2 linked regions of the Homo sapiens genome follow. The protein of the gene in region 1 binds, or shares a complex with, the protein of each later gene. Each region holds a gene or a part of one and is shown on either strand. Other genes may lie near its edges.

The links. The genes of interacting proteins can lie anywhere in the genome.
Region 2: the proteins of NELFB (region 1) and NELFCD are in contact, whole or in part, in a crystal structure (PDB 8JJ6), measured with the Homo sapiens proteins. Residues at the interface, in NP_056271.3 of Homo sapiens: Met49, Leu53, Leu56, Val58, Ala59, Asn60, Gly61, Leu64, Lys65, Leu68, Thr69, Leu75, Ile78, Glu79, Phe81, Gln82, Glu84, Asn85, Gly86, Val87, Leu88, Leu89, Ser91, Leu92, Ser94, Ala95, Leu96, Pro97, Phe98, Leu99; in XP_047296144.1 of Homo sapiens: Arg63, Ile66, Met67, Glu68, Pro69, Ile71, Phe72, Leu75, Ile89, Gln90, Leu92, Ser93, Tyr96, Thr97, Ala98, Val99, Ala100, Gln101, Thr102, Val103, Asn104, Leu105, Leu106, Trp109, Leu110, Gln112, Thr113, Gly114, Val115, Gln121.

Annotation. Positions count from the first base shown.
Region 1 is NC_000009.12:137,257,925-137,265,382, forward strand, and holds part of NELFB (negative elongation factor B), read left to right. Parts: intron 1-5,112; coding exon 5,113-5,298; intron 5,299-6,320; coding exon 6,321-6,433; intron 6,434-7,458. UniProt on the Homo sapiens protein: Essential component of the NELF complex, a complex that negatively regulates the elongation of transcription by RNA polymerase II.
Region 2 is NC_000020.11:58,976,871-58,984,275, forward strand, and holds the start of NELFCD (negative elongation factor C/D), read left to right. Parts: upstream 1-4,439; coding exon 4,440-4,499; intron 4,500-7,405. UniProt on the Homo sapiens protein: Essential component of the NELF complex, a complex that negatively regulates the elongation of transcription by RNA polymerase II.

The sequences.
Region 1 (7,458 bases):
AGCTGGGACCACAGGCACGTGCCACCACACTGGGGCTACTTAAAAATATATATATATTTTTGTAGAGGTGGGGTCTGGCTATGTTGCTCAGGCTGGTCTTGAACTCCTGGGCTGAAGCGATCCTCCCACATCAGCCTTCTAAAGTGCTGGGATTACAGACATGAGGCACCATGCCTAGCCGAGATTTGTTGGGGTTTTTTTTTTTTTTTTTTTTTTTGAGACAGGGTCTCACTCTGTCACCCAGGTTGGAGTACAGTGGTGTGATCGTGGCTCACTGCAGCCTCGACCTCCTGGACTCAAGCAATCCTCCTACCTCAGTCTCCTAAGCAGCTGGGACCACCGGTGTGTGACACCATGCCTGGCTAATTTGTATACTTTTTGCAGAGTTGGTGTTTCGCTGTGTTGCCCAGGCTGGTCTCGAACTCCTGGGCTCAAGTAATCTGTCTGCACACCTCAGCCTCCTGAAGTGCTGGGATTATAGGTGTGAGCGACCACAACTGGTTGTGAGATTTTTTAATTAGCCAATTTTTTTTTTTTTTTTTGAGACAGAGTCTTGCTCTGTCACCCAGACTGGAGTGCAGGGCCTCAATCTCGGCTCACTGTAACCTCTGCCTCCTGAGTTCAAGCAATTCTCCTGCCTCGGCCTCTCGAGTAGCTGAGACTACAGGCGCGCCCCACCATGCCTGGCTAATTTTTTTATTTTTTTGTTTAGTACAGACAGGGTTTCACCATGTTGACCAGGCTGGTCTTGAACTCCTGACCTCAGGTAATCCGCCCACCTTGGCCTCCCAAAGTGCTGGGATTACAAGTGTGAGCCACTGCGCCCGGCCCTAACCAACTTTAAACTAGCACTGTTCAGTGGAAAAAGCGAACTATAAGTTAAGATTTTTCAGCATCCACATTAAGAAAAAAAAATGAGATCAACTTCATTAATGTTTTCTTTGGTCCAGTATATCCAAAATATTATCTTTCAGCATGTAATTCATGTGAAAGATTGGGCTGGGTACGGTGGCTCACGCCTGTACTCCTAGTACTTTGGGAGGCGGAGGTGGGAGGATCGCTTGAGCTTAGTAGTTAAAGACCAAAGGGAGACCTTGTCTCTACAAGAAAAAAAAATTAAGCTAAGCATGGTGGTGCGTACCTGTTGTCTCAACTACTCAGGAGGCTGAAGCAGGAGGATTGCTTAGGCCTCGGATATTGAGGCTGCAGTGAGGTATGATTGAGCCACTGCACTCCAACCTGGGCGACAGAGTGAGAGATCCTGTCTCAAAAGGAAAAAAAAAATATTGAGCTATAATGCTTTTTGCGGGAGGATCACTAAGATTTGAAACCTGGTGAGTCTTTCATGCTTAGAGCCCATCTGAACTACTGCACTTCAAACGCTGAGCAGTTAGTGTGGCTCTGGGTTCCCTTCGGGCCGTGGTTCCTGACCATGTGCGTGGGCAGCAGCAGGCTTGTTGGGGGTGGCAGTGCCACCTCTGTCCTCCCTTCCCTGTTTGTTTATTCCCAGTTAGGTCCTCCATGGGCCTTTTTCTTGTTCCATTGCTGTCAGACAGAGCCCTTGGACCCCTCTGCTAACTGTGGGGTGCCCTGCATTTCCCAGGCCTTTCTCCTATCGCCTGTCTCTTCTGGTGACTTGGTGCTGCCTATACTGATTTCTGTCTGTAAGGGAAATCAGTCGGCTTGGTCGGCTTAGTCCTAGGTTGATTCTCTTTTATTTTTATTTTATTTTATTTTATATATTTTTATCTTGTTTTATTTTACTACTTTTTAAAATTTATTTTTTATTTTTTTATTATTTATTTATTTATTTTTTTGGAGACAGAGTCTTGCTCTGTCACCCAGGCTGGAGTGCAGTGGCACGATCTTGGCTCACTGCAAGCTCCGCCTCCCGGGTTCACTCCATTCTCCTGCCTCAGCCTCCCAAGTAGCTGGGACTACAGGCGCCTGCCACCATGCCCGGCTAATTTTTTGTATTTTTTTTTTTAGTAGAGACGGGGTTTCACAGTGTTAGCCAGGATGGTCTCAATCTCCTGACCTTGTGATCCACCTGCCTCAGCCTCCCAAAGTGTTGGGATTATGGGCGTGAGCCACCGTGCCTGGCCTATTTTTATTTTTATTTATTTTATTTTATTTTATTTTTGAGACAGAATCTTGCTCTGTTGCCCAGGCTGGAGTGCAGTGGTGCAATCTCGGCTCACTGCAAGCTCCGCCTCCCGGGTTCACTCCGTTCTCCTGCCTCAGCCTCCCGAGTGGCTGGGACTACAGGCGCCCACCACCACGCCCAGCTATGTTTTTTGTATTTTTAGTAGAGATGGGGTTTCACCATGTTAGCCAGGATGGTCTCGATCTCCTGACCTCATGATCCACCCGCCTCGGCCTCCCAAAGTGCTGGGATTACGGGCGTGAGCCACTGAGACCGGCTATTTTATTTTATTATTTTTTTTAATTTTTAAAATTTATTTTTTAAAATTTTTTTTATTTATTTTATTTTAATTTTATATTTTGTTTTATTTTATTTTAGTTTGTTTTATTTTTTTTTTTTTGAGACGTAGTGTCCTTCTGTTGCCCAGGCTGGAGTGCAGTGGTGTGATCTCAGCTCACTGCAACCTCAGTCTCCCAGGTTCAAGTGATTCTCCTGCCTCAACCTCCCGAGTAGCTGGGATTACAGGCACCCACCACCACGCCCGACTAATTTTTGTATTTTTAGTAGAGATGGGGTTTCACCATGTTGGCCAGGCTGTTCTCGAACTCCTGGCCTCAGGTAGTCCACCCACCTTGGGCTCCCAATTTGCTGCAATTACAGGTGTGAGCCACCGTGCCCAGCCCGATTCTCTTTTAAAAAGCTAAATTAGGCCGGGTGCGGTGGCTCACGCCTGTAATCCCAGCACTTTGGGAGGCAGAGGTGGGTGGATCACGAGGTCAGGAGTTCGAGACCAGCCTGACCAACATGGTAAAAACCCATCTCTACTAAAAATACAAAAATTAACCAGACCTGGTGGTGTGCGCCTGTAGTCCCAGCTACTCAGGAGGCTGAGGCAGGAGAATCACTTGAACCCGGGAGGTGGAGGTTGCAGTTAGCCAAGATTGCGCCACTGTACTAGGCGACAGAGTGAGACTCAGTCGCAAAAAAAAAAGCTGGGCGCAGTGACTCACGCCTGTAATCCCAGCACTTTGGGAGGCCGAGGCGGGTGGATCATGAGGTCAGGAGATCGAGACCATCCTGGCTAACATGGTGAAACCGCATCTACTAAAAATACAAAAAATTAGCTGGGCGTGGTGGTGGGTGCCTGTAGTCCCAGCTGCTCGGGAGGCCGAGGCAGGAGAATGGTGTGAACCTGGGAGGTGGAGCTTGCAGTGAGCTGAGATCACGCCACTGCACTCCAGCCTGGGTAACAGAGCACGACTCGGTTTCAAAAAAAAAAAAAAAAAGTAAAAAAAAAAAAAAACTGGGTCAGGTGTGTGGCTCATGCCTGCAATCCTAGCACTTTGGGAGGCCGAGGTGGGTGGATCACCTGAGCTCAGAAGTTCAAGACCAGCCCGGGCAACATGGTGAAACCCCGTCTCTACTACAATACAAAAAATTAGCCAGTCATGGCAGCCGGCGCCTGTAATCCCAACTACTTGGGAAGCTGAGACAGGAGAATAGCTTGAATCCGGGAGGTGGAGGTTGCAGTGAACCAAGATCTTGCCATTGCACTCCAGCCTGGGTGACAGCGCAAGACTCCGTCTCAAAAAAAAAAAAAAAAAAAATTGATTGGGTGTAGGGACCAGCCCCACAGGGTTGATGGGTTTTTCTCCCCGTGTGCGGAGATGAGAGATTGTAGAAGTAAAGACACAAGGCAAAGAAATGAAAAGACAGCTGGGCCCGGGGGACCATTACCACCAAGACGCGGAGACTGGTAGTGGCCCCGAATGTCAGGCTGCGCTGATATTTATTGGATACAAGACAAAGAGGCAGGGTAAAGAGTGTGAGCCATCTCCAATGATAGGTAAGGTCACGTGGTTCACGTGTCCGCTTGACAGGGGGCCCTTCCCTGCCTGGCAGCCTAGGCAGAGAGAGAGAGAGAGGAGAGAGAGAAACAGCTTACGCCGTTATTTCTGCGTATCAGAGACTTTTAGTACTTTCACTAATTGACTACTGCTATCTAGAAGGCAGAGCCAGGTGTACAGGATGGAACATGAAGGCGGACAAGGAGCGTGACCACTGAAGCACAGCATCACAGGGAGACGGTTAGGCCTCTGGATAACTGCGGGCAGGTCTGACTGATGTCAGGCCCTCCACAAGAGGTGGAGGAGCAGAGTTTTCTCTAAACTCCCCCGGGGAAAGGGAGACTCCCTTTCCCTGTCTGCTAAGTAGCGGGTGTTGTTCCTTCACATTTTTCGCTACCGCTAGACCCTGGTCCGCCTGGCAACGGGCGTCTTCCCAGATGCTGGCGTCACCGCTAGACCAAGGAGCCCTCTGGTGGCCCTGTCCAGGCATAACAGAAGGCTCGCACTCTTGTCTTCTGGTCACACCTCACTATGTCCCCTCAGCTCCTATCTCTGTATGGCCTGGTTTTTCCTAGATTATGATTGTAGAGCGAGGATTGTTATAATATTGGAATAAAGAGTAATTGCTACAAGCTAATGACTAATATTCAAATATAATCATATCTATGATCTATATCTAATATAACTATTCTTGCATATTTTGTTATACTGGAACAGCTCGTGCCCTTGGTCTCTTGCCTTGGCACCTGGGTGGCTTGCTGCCCACAGTTGGGTGTCGTGGCATGCAATTGTAGTCCCAGCTACTTGGGAGGCTGAGGCAGGAGGATCACTTGAGCCAGGAGGTCAAGGCTGCAGTGAGCCACAGTTGCAGCAGTGCACTCGAGCCTGGGCAACAGAGCAAGGCCTTGTCTCAAAAAAAGTAATAAAAAAAATAAAAATAACAGAACCTGCTACCATCAGACTGGGGGCCAATATTTAATGAGAGGAGGGAATGTTTTCTGCCAAAAAGTAGGAAGGACAGATGTCCAGAGAGAGGGCCGCGCTGTCGCCGGGCGTGACGTCCCTGTGTCTGGCGGAGCCCAGGACGGTCTGGGGGCCTGACAGTGCCTCTTGCTGCAGGTGGTGCAGCGGCTGACGCGGATGGTGGGGAAGAACGTGAAGCTGTACGACATGGTGCTGCAGTTTCTGCGCACGCTCTTCCTGCGCACGCGGAATGTGCACTACTGCACGCTGCGGGCTGAGCTGCTCATGTCCCTGCACGACCTGGACGTGGGTGAAATCTGCACCGTGGACCCGTGCCACAAGGTAGCACTGCCCTCCCTCCTTCCCCCCTACCCTCCTGAAGGTAGTGCTGCCCTCCCTCCCTCCTTCCCTCCCACTCCCCGGCCCTCCCTCCTTCCCCCACTGCCCTCCTGAAGGTAGCGCTGCCCTCCCTCCCTCCCTCCTTCTCCCTTCTCCCCCGCTCCCCGGCCCTCCCTCCTCCCCCTCCGCCCTCCTGAAGGTAGCGCTGCCCTCCCTCCCTCCTTCCCCCCAACTCCCCGGCCCTCTCTCCTTCCCCCTCTGCCCCTCCTGAAGGTAGCATTGCCCTCCCTCCTTCCCCCTGGCCCTCCTGGCTCCTCTCCTCTCCGTGGGTTTGGCTTGGCCCGGGACCACCTGGGCGCCCTTCTCTCCCATGCCTGTTTCCTGGGCTCTGGTCTTTCTGTCCTGTGTGCTGGCCCTTTGGCTTCTCTCCAGACCCTGATGGGGGAAGGAGGCTAGTCCCCTGCATCTGAGCCAGAGACCTGGCCGTTCCCGGGGACTCCCTTGCCCCGTCCAGCCCTTTCTGTGTTCCCGAGGGCTGTATGACCTACGGGCTGGACCTTGACCATTGCCCCAGCTTCCTCCCATCTTTCCACCTGGCCTGTGGCCCTCCCCTTCCCCAGAACCCTGGGTGCTGCTTGTTGGCCAGGTACCAAGTGCTCTAGGAACGGGGTTTCCCTTCATACGGACCCTCCAGCCCTGAGACCATCTTTCCGGGACTTGGGAGTCACCCTCCGAGGCTTCCATTGCTTGGAGTGCTGCAGTGGCCACCCCCACACTCAGGGTGCCATGAAGGAGTCCGTTTTTAGAAAGAAACATCATCACTTTCTCCACCACTGTCCTGACCCTGCTGCTTTGGCCGGGAGGTGTGGGGAACACTGCACCGTCAGGATGACTGGTGCCTGCTGCCGCCCCCCGCAGCAGCTATGATTGAACAAGAGGCCAGGGCCTGGAGCTGTGTTTGGGGCCTGGGTCTCTGGTCATCCTGGGAGGTTTGGGCTGGTCCCGACCGTGCTTCCTCCTTGCAGTTCACCTGGTGCCTGGACGCCTGCATCCGAGAGCGGTTCGTGGACAGCAAGAGGGCGCGGGAGCTGCAGGGGTTTCTCGATGGCGTCAAGAAGGGCCAGGAGCAGGTGCTGGGGTGAGGGTCGGCTCCACGAGGCCTCTGCCCCTCAGGGCCCTGCGTGCATCCGGTCTGCGCTTGCTGTGTTTTGCCGTGGGTAGCAGGCGTTTATTCCCGGATATTGCTTTTTCTTTTGTTTTTTTCGAGACAGAGTCTCGTTCTGTAGCCCAGGATGGAGTGCAGTGGTGCAATCTCTGCTCACTGCAACCTCCGCCTCCTAGGCTTAAGCCATTCTCCTGCCTCAGCCTCCCAAGTAGCTGGGATTACAGGCACGCGCCACTGCGCTCAGGTAATTTTTGTATTTTTTAGTAGAGACAGGGTTTCACCATGTTGGCCAGGCTTGTCTTGAACTCCTGACCTCAGGTGATCCACCCGCCTCAGCCTTCCAAAGTGCTGGGATTACAGGCATGCGCCACCGTGCCTGGCCTCCTGGATGTTTCAATAGAGCTATGCCGGGCACTGCTGGCCCACAGCTTAGGGACATGGTTGTCGGGATGTGTGTGGGTAGCAAAGTCTCCCTCCTCAACTCTGCATTCTGGAGCCAGGCCCAGGGGCTGGGGTCTGGTGTCTGCAGTGGCGTGGGGTCAGCCTCTGAGCTGAGGGGCATCCATTGGCATTTGCTTTCCAGCATCCTCTGGCTGGTGTATAGACACAGTGCTGCCTGGCCCTGCCTTTGCCACTTTTTTTCTTCCTTTTTTTTTTTTTTTTTTTTTTTCTGAGACAGGGTCTCTGTCACCCAGGCTTTAGTGCAGTGGTACAGTCTCCCTCAACCTCCTGGGCATTGATCCTGCTGTCTCCGCCTCCCAAAGTGCTGGGATTACAGGCACACACCAGTGCGCCTGGCCGATTTTTGTTATCTTTAGTAGAGATGGGATTTCACCACCTCGCCCGGGCTAGTCTCAAACAAACAATCCACCGGCCTCAGCATCCCAAAGTGCTGGGATGACAGGCGTGAGCCACCACACCCAGCCTTTTTTTTGTTTGTTTTTTTAACTTTTTAATTTGAAAAATCTTTGAATAGGTTAAGGACAAATTGCAAACCT
Region 2 (7,405 bases), on another chromosome or scaffold:
GCACTCCAGCCATTTTCTTTACTGTCATTTCTTATTTTCTCCACTGTACCCTATTCTCTTTGTCCTCCAGATTGAAGTCACAAGTCTCAGCTTAAACATAATTTCCCTGGAAAGGACTTCTTGACCTCTTTCTGAGGTCGCTGCATTTTTTAAAAAAAATTGTTAGAGATAGCTTCTCTTTTCTCCTTTTTTGCCATTAGCACCAGATGAATTGTGTCTCTGATTCAGCTATATCCCAGCACCTGACACCTAGTAGGCACTCAGTAAGTATTTCCTCAATGGATTAAGTGAAACCAACTTCTAATTTTCATAAAAATTCTCCACCAGAATTCTTCTTTTTCTTCTTTTTTTTTGGTGGGGGTCAGGGGACAGAGTCTTGCTCTGTCACCCAGGCTGGAGTACAGTGGTGTGATCTCACTTCACTGCAACCTCTGCCTCCCAAGTTCAAGCGATTCTCCTGCCTCAGCCTCCCAAGTAGCTGGGACTACAGGCACCCGCCACCACACCTGGCTAATTTTTGTATTTTTAGAAGAGACGGGGTTTCACCATGTTGGCCAGGCTGGTCTCAAACTCCTGACCTCAAGTGATCTGCCTGTGTTGGCCTCCCAAAGTGCTGGGATTATAGGTATGAGCCACCGCACCCGGCCCAGAATTCTTCTTAAACAGGAAAATGACTTTAGAACTTAAATGACTTTAGGAGTATTTAAGCAATGCAAGCTAATCTGGACAATCTAGACAAGGCTTTGGAAAAAACAACAGATCCACAATATCTCAGGAGGCAAGACCTATAGACCCAACTACTTTTTTTTTTTTTTTTTTTTTTGAGACAGAGTTTCGCTCTGTCACCCAGGCTGGAGTGCAGTGGCATGATCTCGGCTCACTGCAAGCTCCACCTCCCAGGTTCACACTATTCTCCTGCCTCAGCCTCCTGAGTAGCTGGGACTACAGGCGCCTGCCACCATGCCCGGCTAATTTTTTTGTATTTTTAGTAGAGACGGGGTTTCACCGTGTTAGCCAGGATGGTCTCGATCTCCTGACCTCGTGATCCACCCGCCTCGGCCTCCCAAAGTGCTGGGATTACGGGCCTGAGCCACTGCGCCCGGCTGACCCAATTACTTTTAAATCATTGTGACTTATAGGCTGAATGTAATGGTTTCATTACGGGTTGTTAATCCATTTAACAATAAATGGATTAACCAACCTGTTGGTTGAAGGAGAAGTGAGCTGAATAATCCCCAATTCCGTAGGCACAATTAGTTATACATACATTAATTGGTCCGCTTTCAATTCTGGCACTATTTTTTAAAAAATCTAAGAGGAGAGGTAGGAGGAGTTTAACAGCCATCTATTCTTTCCAACATTTTGAGAAAGCAAGTGAAAATGAACCCTGAAACAAGCCAACAGCAGGGGCACTCATTAACTTAATACACTTTAATCTTGTGAATAGAAGCTGGAGCTGGATCCTTTGAATCGGAGCTGCAGACTTCCACCTCCAACCACCTGCAGGACATCTCCGCATGGGTGTTCTGTTGGCACCTCTAACTCAGCACAACCCAATGAACTCATTATCATCCCATGGAGAAACCTGCCCTCCTCCTGGGTTCCCTGTCTCAGCCATGGGCCATCCCCAGGCACACAAGCTGGGGGTCACAGCAGCATCTTCCCTGCCCCTGTTCCTGGCCCCCATCTCCCACCCCCAAGGCTGTTGTATCCTCTGGACTTGACCCCAACTTCACAGCAGTTAGCCACAGCTCCTTCTCAGCAACCCCCTCCATTAATGCTCACGGAAGCTTCTTAATTTACATTCTCACCTTCTCACTTCCTTCTGTAAGGCCCCCTCAGCTAGGAGAAATGCCTTTGAAAATTCAGATATGTCCTTTCACCCGCTCAGAGCAAGAAAAAAAAAATCCAAACGTTTCATCTTCCTCATAATGATGCATACTTGCTGAGCACCTACCATGTGCAAGCTCTCTGCTCAGTGCTTGGCATACCTCATTACATTCAATCCTTAGAGATGGCCCTCAGTTAATACAGACCTAACTCCCTCCCAAGATCTGGCCCTCCCTGCCTTGCCCACCTCATCTAGATTTCTCCTTGGCCTGCCAGGTGCCGCTCTCAGTGGCCTTTCTGTTCCAAGTACGCATGCCTGGCCTTTGCCCTGGCAGTTCTGCTCTCTGGAAATGCTCTTGCCTGGGTCTTAGCTAGCTTGCCCCTTTCATGACATGACTCAGTTCAAATGTAAGCTGCTCAGCAGCCATCTCTGATCTCCCCAAGAAGATTCTATTATCACAGAATACTAGCACTGATCACCTTCTGTCTTTATCTTATTTGTTCCCCCCACCCCCTCCCCCCATTCAGCTCCTTCAGTAGAATGTAGGCTCTACCCGGACAAGGATCAGGTCCAACTTGTTCACCGAGCTCCAGGGAGCAGCGCAGTGCTGGGCACTTAGGGAACACTCAATAAACATTTGTTGAATAAATGAAGACATATTCCCTGATAAGTTCTCCAAAAGTAGTCACTATTATCAATCTTCTGGAGCTCTTTTCTCTAATACTCTTTCCTTACTGACATGGGCATTACCTTTCTTTTTTTTCTTTATAGACAGGGTCTCACTTTGTCACACAGGCTGAAATGCAATGGCACGACCATAGCAAACTGTAACCTCAAACTCCTGGGCTGAAGCAATCCTCCTGCCTCAGCCTCCCGAGCAGCTAGGACTACAGGCGTGCATCACCATACCTGGCTGGGGGCGGGGGAAGGGGGGGGGCGGTGTCTCGCTATGTTGCCCAGGTTGGTCTCAAACTCTTGCCTCAAGCAATCCTCCCACCTTGGCCTCCCAAAGTGCTGGGATTACAGGTGTGAGCCGCGGCGCTCAGCCACGGGCGTTACCTTTCAAAGCATCCAGATTTTATGGCGTTAATCTCCCTGTTTAAAATTTTCTGTGATTTGGACACAAAGATGGGAACAACAGACATGGGGTATTCCAAAAGGCAGAAGGTGTGGAGGGGGGTAAAGGCTGAAAAAGTTGCCGAAAGGATTAGAAGCATCACGCAATATACCAATGTAACAAACCTGCACACGCACCGAATCTAAAATTAAAACAAAACAAAAACACAACAACCAAACAAAAACCTTTCCGTGATCATCAGGAGGCTGTCATATTCTCACCCCCTACTTCACGCTGGGAATCGAGCTGCGGGCTTTACAACAGCGTCAGCTGCTCCCTTTGGCAACGACCAGAGAGGTCCTTTCTCCAGAGATTTTTGTCAGCTCTGGGCACTTTTGCTTTGTGGGCCTATCTTCCACTTTATAAAAAATTAAAAATGCTACTTTCCACTGCATTCAGTACTTTTTCTTCTCTTTTCTTTTTTCTTTTCTTTTCTTTCTTTCTTCTTTCTTTCTTTTTCTTTTTCTTTTTTTTTTTTTTTTTGACACAGTTTCACTCTGTTGCCTAGGCTGGAGTGCGGTGGTGTGATCTTGGCTCACTGCAACCTCCACCTCCTGGGTTCAAGCGGTTCTCGTGACTCAGCCTCTTGAGTAGCTGAGACTACAGGCGCCCGCCACCATGCCCAGCTAATTTTTGTGTTATTAGTAGAGAAGGGGTTTTACCATGTTGACCAGGCTGGTCTCGAACTCCTGACCTCAGGTGATCCGCCCGCCTCGGCCTCCCAAAGTGTTGGGATTACAGGCGTGAGCCACCGTGCCCTGCCCTTTTTATGTATGTATTTATTTATTTGAGATAGGGTCTCGCTCTGTCGCTCAGGCTGGAGTGCAATGGTGCGATCTTGGCTCACTGCAACCTCCGCCTCCCGGGTTCAAGCGATTCTCCTGCCTCAGTCACCCGAGTACCTGGGATTACAGGCGCATGCCACCACGCCCGGCTAATTTTTGTATTTTGAGCAGAGACGGGGTTTCACCATGTTGGCCAGACTGGCCTCGAACTCCTGACCTCAAGTGATCCGTCAGCCTCGGTCTCCCAAAGTGCTGGGATTACAGGCGTGAGCCCCCACGCCCGGTCGCGTTTAGTACTTTTTACCAAAACTAAAAGAAATTAAAACACTTTCGTGGGTCCTGGACACTTCCGGAAGGATTTGTTTCCAGCTGCCAGATGAGGAAACTGGGGCTCGCAGAGCCGGCGCCGCAGGGGAGGGGCTGTGCACGAATCCAGTGGGAAACCTCTCTCCGGAGCTAAGCCCCTGGTCCACCCGGGCATCGCTCCGGGATCGACTGGGGGCGTTCCTTCCGCCGGTCCCCTTTGTTCCCAGTGCCGAGCCCGCGGCCCTGCCCTTCCTCCAGGCCCCGCCCCTTCTTCCAGGCCCCGCCTCCCGCCCGGGCCGAGGCGCGCGGCCGCGCGTGCGCCCGCCCGCCCGTCCCCGCCTCGCGCATGCGCCGCGCTCGCTCGCGGGAGGGCATGGCGGGGGCCGTGCCGGGCGCCATCATGGACGAGGACTACTACGGGAGCGCGGCCGAGTGGGGCGACGAGGCTGACGGCGGCCAGGTGAGGCGGGGCACTGGGCGCACCCTAGAGAGAATCGTTCGTCTCCGCCGCCGGCGGGCCGGCCCCACTCCCGGAGAGGCCGCGCGGCGCGAGGCTGCGGGCGTGCGGGGGGTGTGCGCGCGCACGGCCCGCGCGGTCACCGTGTGGTTCAAGCACAGCCCGCCCCGCCCCCGCCCGCCCGGGGTCCCGCGGCGCGGCCGCCGGGGTCCCCGCCTCCTCGCCTGCAGGACCTTGGGGTGGGGGTGAGGCGCCGGAGGCTCTGGCGCGGGGCGGCCCGAGGCCCCCAGTACCCCCTCGCTCCGGCCAGGCCCGGCGCCGGCCCTGCGACCCCCGCGGCGGGCGGGACACCAACGCTAAGGTGGAGGGTTGGGTCCGGAGCTCACAGACTTTTAAACAAAAATAAAGTGGAAAAACTTCACAGCAGCATCATGAGGAAAAAGTAGAACTTAGGGCATTCCTACATGTGCTTTACTGTTTTATAAACTGTACTCTTCAGCACCTTGGGCTGATTTCATCTGTTTTTGGGCAAACTGATGGAAAGGATTTTCGGGCCTTGACCTTCCAGGGTTTGGGGTGGAAGCCCAGGAGGGATCACTGTTCCACCCTGAGGACAGGGACTGCAGAGCCAGGGCAGGTAGCTCTAGTCTGGACAGTGTGTCCCCACCTTACTCTAAAGACCCAACTGAGGCGCATGATTGAAATGTAGCTTCTCACGTCCCTCCCCTGGAGACGGCCCAACAGTTGGTCTGGACGGGAGCCTGGGAACTTGCATTTTTTTTTTTTTTTTTTTTTTTTTTTTTTTTTGTGGTGGAGTTTCGCTCTTGTTGCCCAGGCTGGAGTGTAATGGCGCCATCGCGGCTCACTGCAACGTCTGCCTCTCGGATTCAAGCGATTCTCCTGCCTCAGCCTCCCGAATAGCTGGGATTACAGGCACCCACCACCATGCCCAGCTAATTTTTAAAATTTTGAGTAGAGAGGGGGTTTCACCTTGTTGGCCAGGCTGGTCTCAAACTCTTGACCTCAGGTGATCCACCCACCTCTGCCTCCCAAAGTACTGGGATTACAGGCGTGAGCCACTGCTCGTGGCCCAGGAACTTGCATTTTTAACAACAATCAAGATTGGGGATGTCTGGTGCATTTTGAAGTGGTATTATAAGGGAATAAAGGATGAAGTGGGGCTTACGTTGATAAACATGGGTGGTGGTGTGATGGCGGCTTCGGAGCCATGGTCTAAAATGCCAAGGCGGGCGATGTGTTTCTGGAACTGAAAGAAGCCCTGTGATGTTAGCTGCCTGGTGGAAGCAGTGGCAGGAGGTCAGTAGGGAGCAGGTTCTGAAGATCCTTGGAGAGCTGCTGAATGGTATGGCTTGTTCAGGAGTTTGGGGCAGGGAGTGACACGAGTAGATTTGCATGTTGGATCATTTCACAGTGTTGGAGGCTTAGGGTGGAGTGGATAGAGTCAGACTTAGCTAACTGAGAGCTTGGGCCATGTGTGTCATGCGTTATCCCCTTCCACACACAGGATTTTGAGTTGGGTGTTACCCTACTTATCTGGTAAGTGTAGAAAATGAGACGAAAAGACTTACTGACCTGCCCAAGGTCATGAAACTAATAAAGGAAGGAGAGGGGACCCAAACCCACATCCTTTGCCTCCGTTGCCACTTCGTCAAATTGCTGACTACCAAAGTGGTCCAGATGAGAAGGTGTGAATTAGCTTAGTGGTAGGTTGGTGTTTGGGGCATCTAGTATATCACCTTGAGCCTTTTTTTCTTTTTTTTTTTTTTTGAGACAGAGTCTCGCTTAGCTGCTCAGGCTGGAGTGCAGTGGCTTGATCTCAGCTCGCTGCAACTGCCATCTCCTGGGTTCAAGCAATTCTCCCGTCTCAGCCTCCTGAGTAGCTGGGATTACAGGCATCCGCCATCATGTCCGGCTAATTTTTGTATTTTAGTAGAGACAGTGTTTCACCACGTTGGCCAGGCTAGTCTTGAACTCCTGACCTCAGGTGATCCGCCTGCCCCGGCCTCCCAAAATGCTAGGATTACAGGCGTGAGCCACCGCACCCGGCCTTTTTTTTTTTTTTTTTTCTTTGAGACGGAGTCTCACTCTGTCACCCAGGCTGGAGTGCAGTGGTGCCATCTTGGCTCACTGCAACCTCCACCTCCTGGGTTCAAGTGATTCTCCAAGTAGCTGGAATTACAGGCCGGTGCCACCACACCCGGCTAATTTTTGTATTTTTAGTAGAGATGTGGTTTCACCATGTTGGCCAGGCTGGTCTCGAACTCCTGGCCTCAAGTAATCTGCCCGCCTCCGCCTCTCAAAGTGCTGAGATTACAGGTGTGAGCTACCGTGCCCGGCCTCACCTTGAGGCTTTGAGTCATAAAGTGTTAGAACTGGGGCATATAAGGGCCATCTAATCAGTACCTTCACTTTATAGACCAAGCACGTGAGTTATTTGCCCAAGTTTGTGCAGTCAGACCTAGACCCCACTGATGGGAGATTGGGGAGTCTCATGTTTGGGGAATTTTAATCATGATCCTAATTTGGCCCACTGACACCAGTGGGCTCTCATGGATGAGGGGGGTGGACCAGACGTTCATTTCATGTTTATTCTGTGACTCTGCTTGGAAGAGGTACAGAAAGTTAGGAAAGGTGTTAGGAGGGTGGCAAGAACTGGATTTTAAAAGATAGTTGGTGACCCAAATTCTGTTCGCCTGATGCCATGTTACATAGTGGGAGGTAGGAAGATGTGTAAGGAGGCCACCGTGATGTTCAGTCTGGATGGTGGAAACTAAGAGCTGCAGACATGCAAATAGATGAGTCCTGCTACAGATTGCAAATGGGGAGTGGTGAGAGGTCAGAACGGACAGGGGAAGTGGGAAGGGCACGCTCTTGCTAGAGCTGGGGCG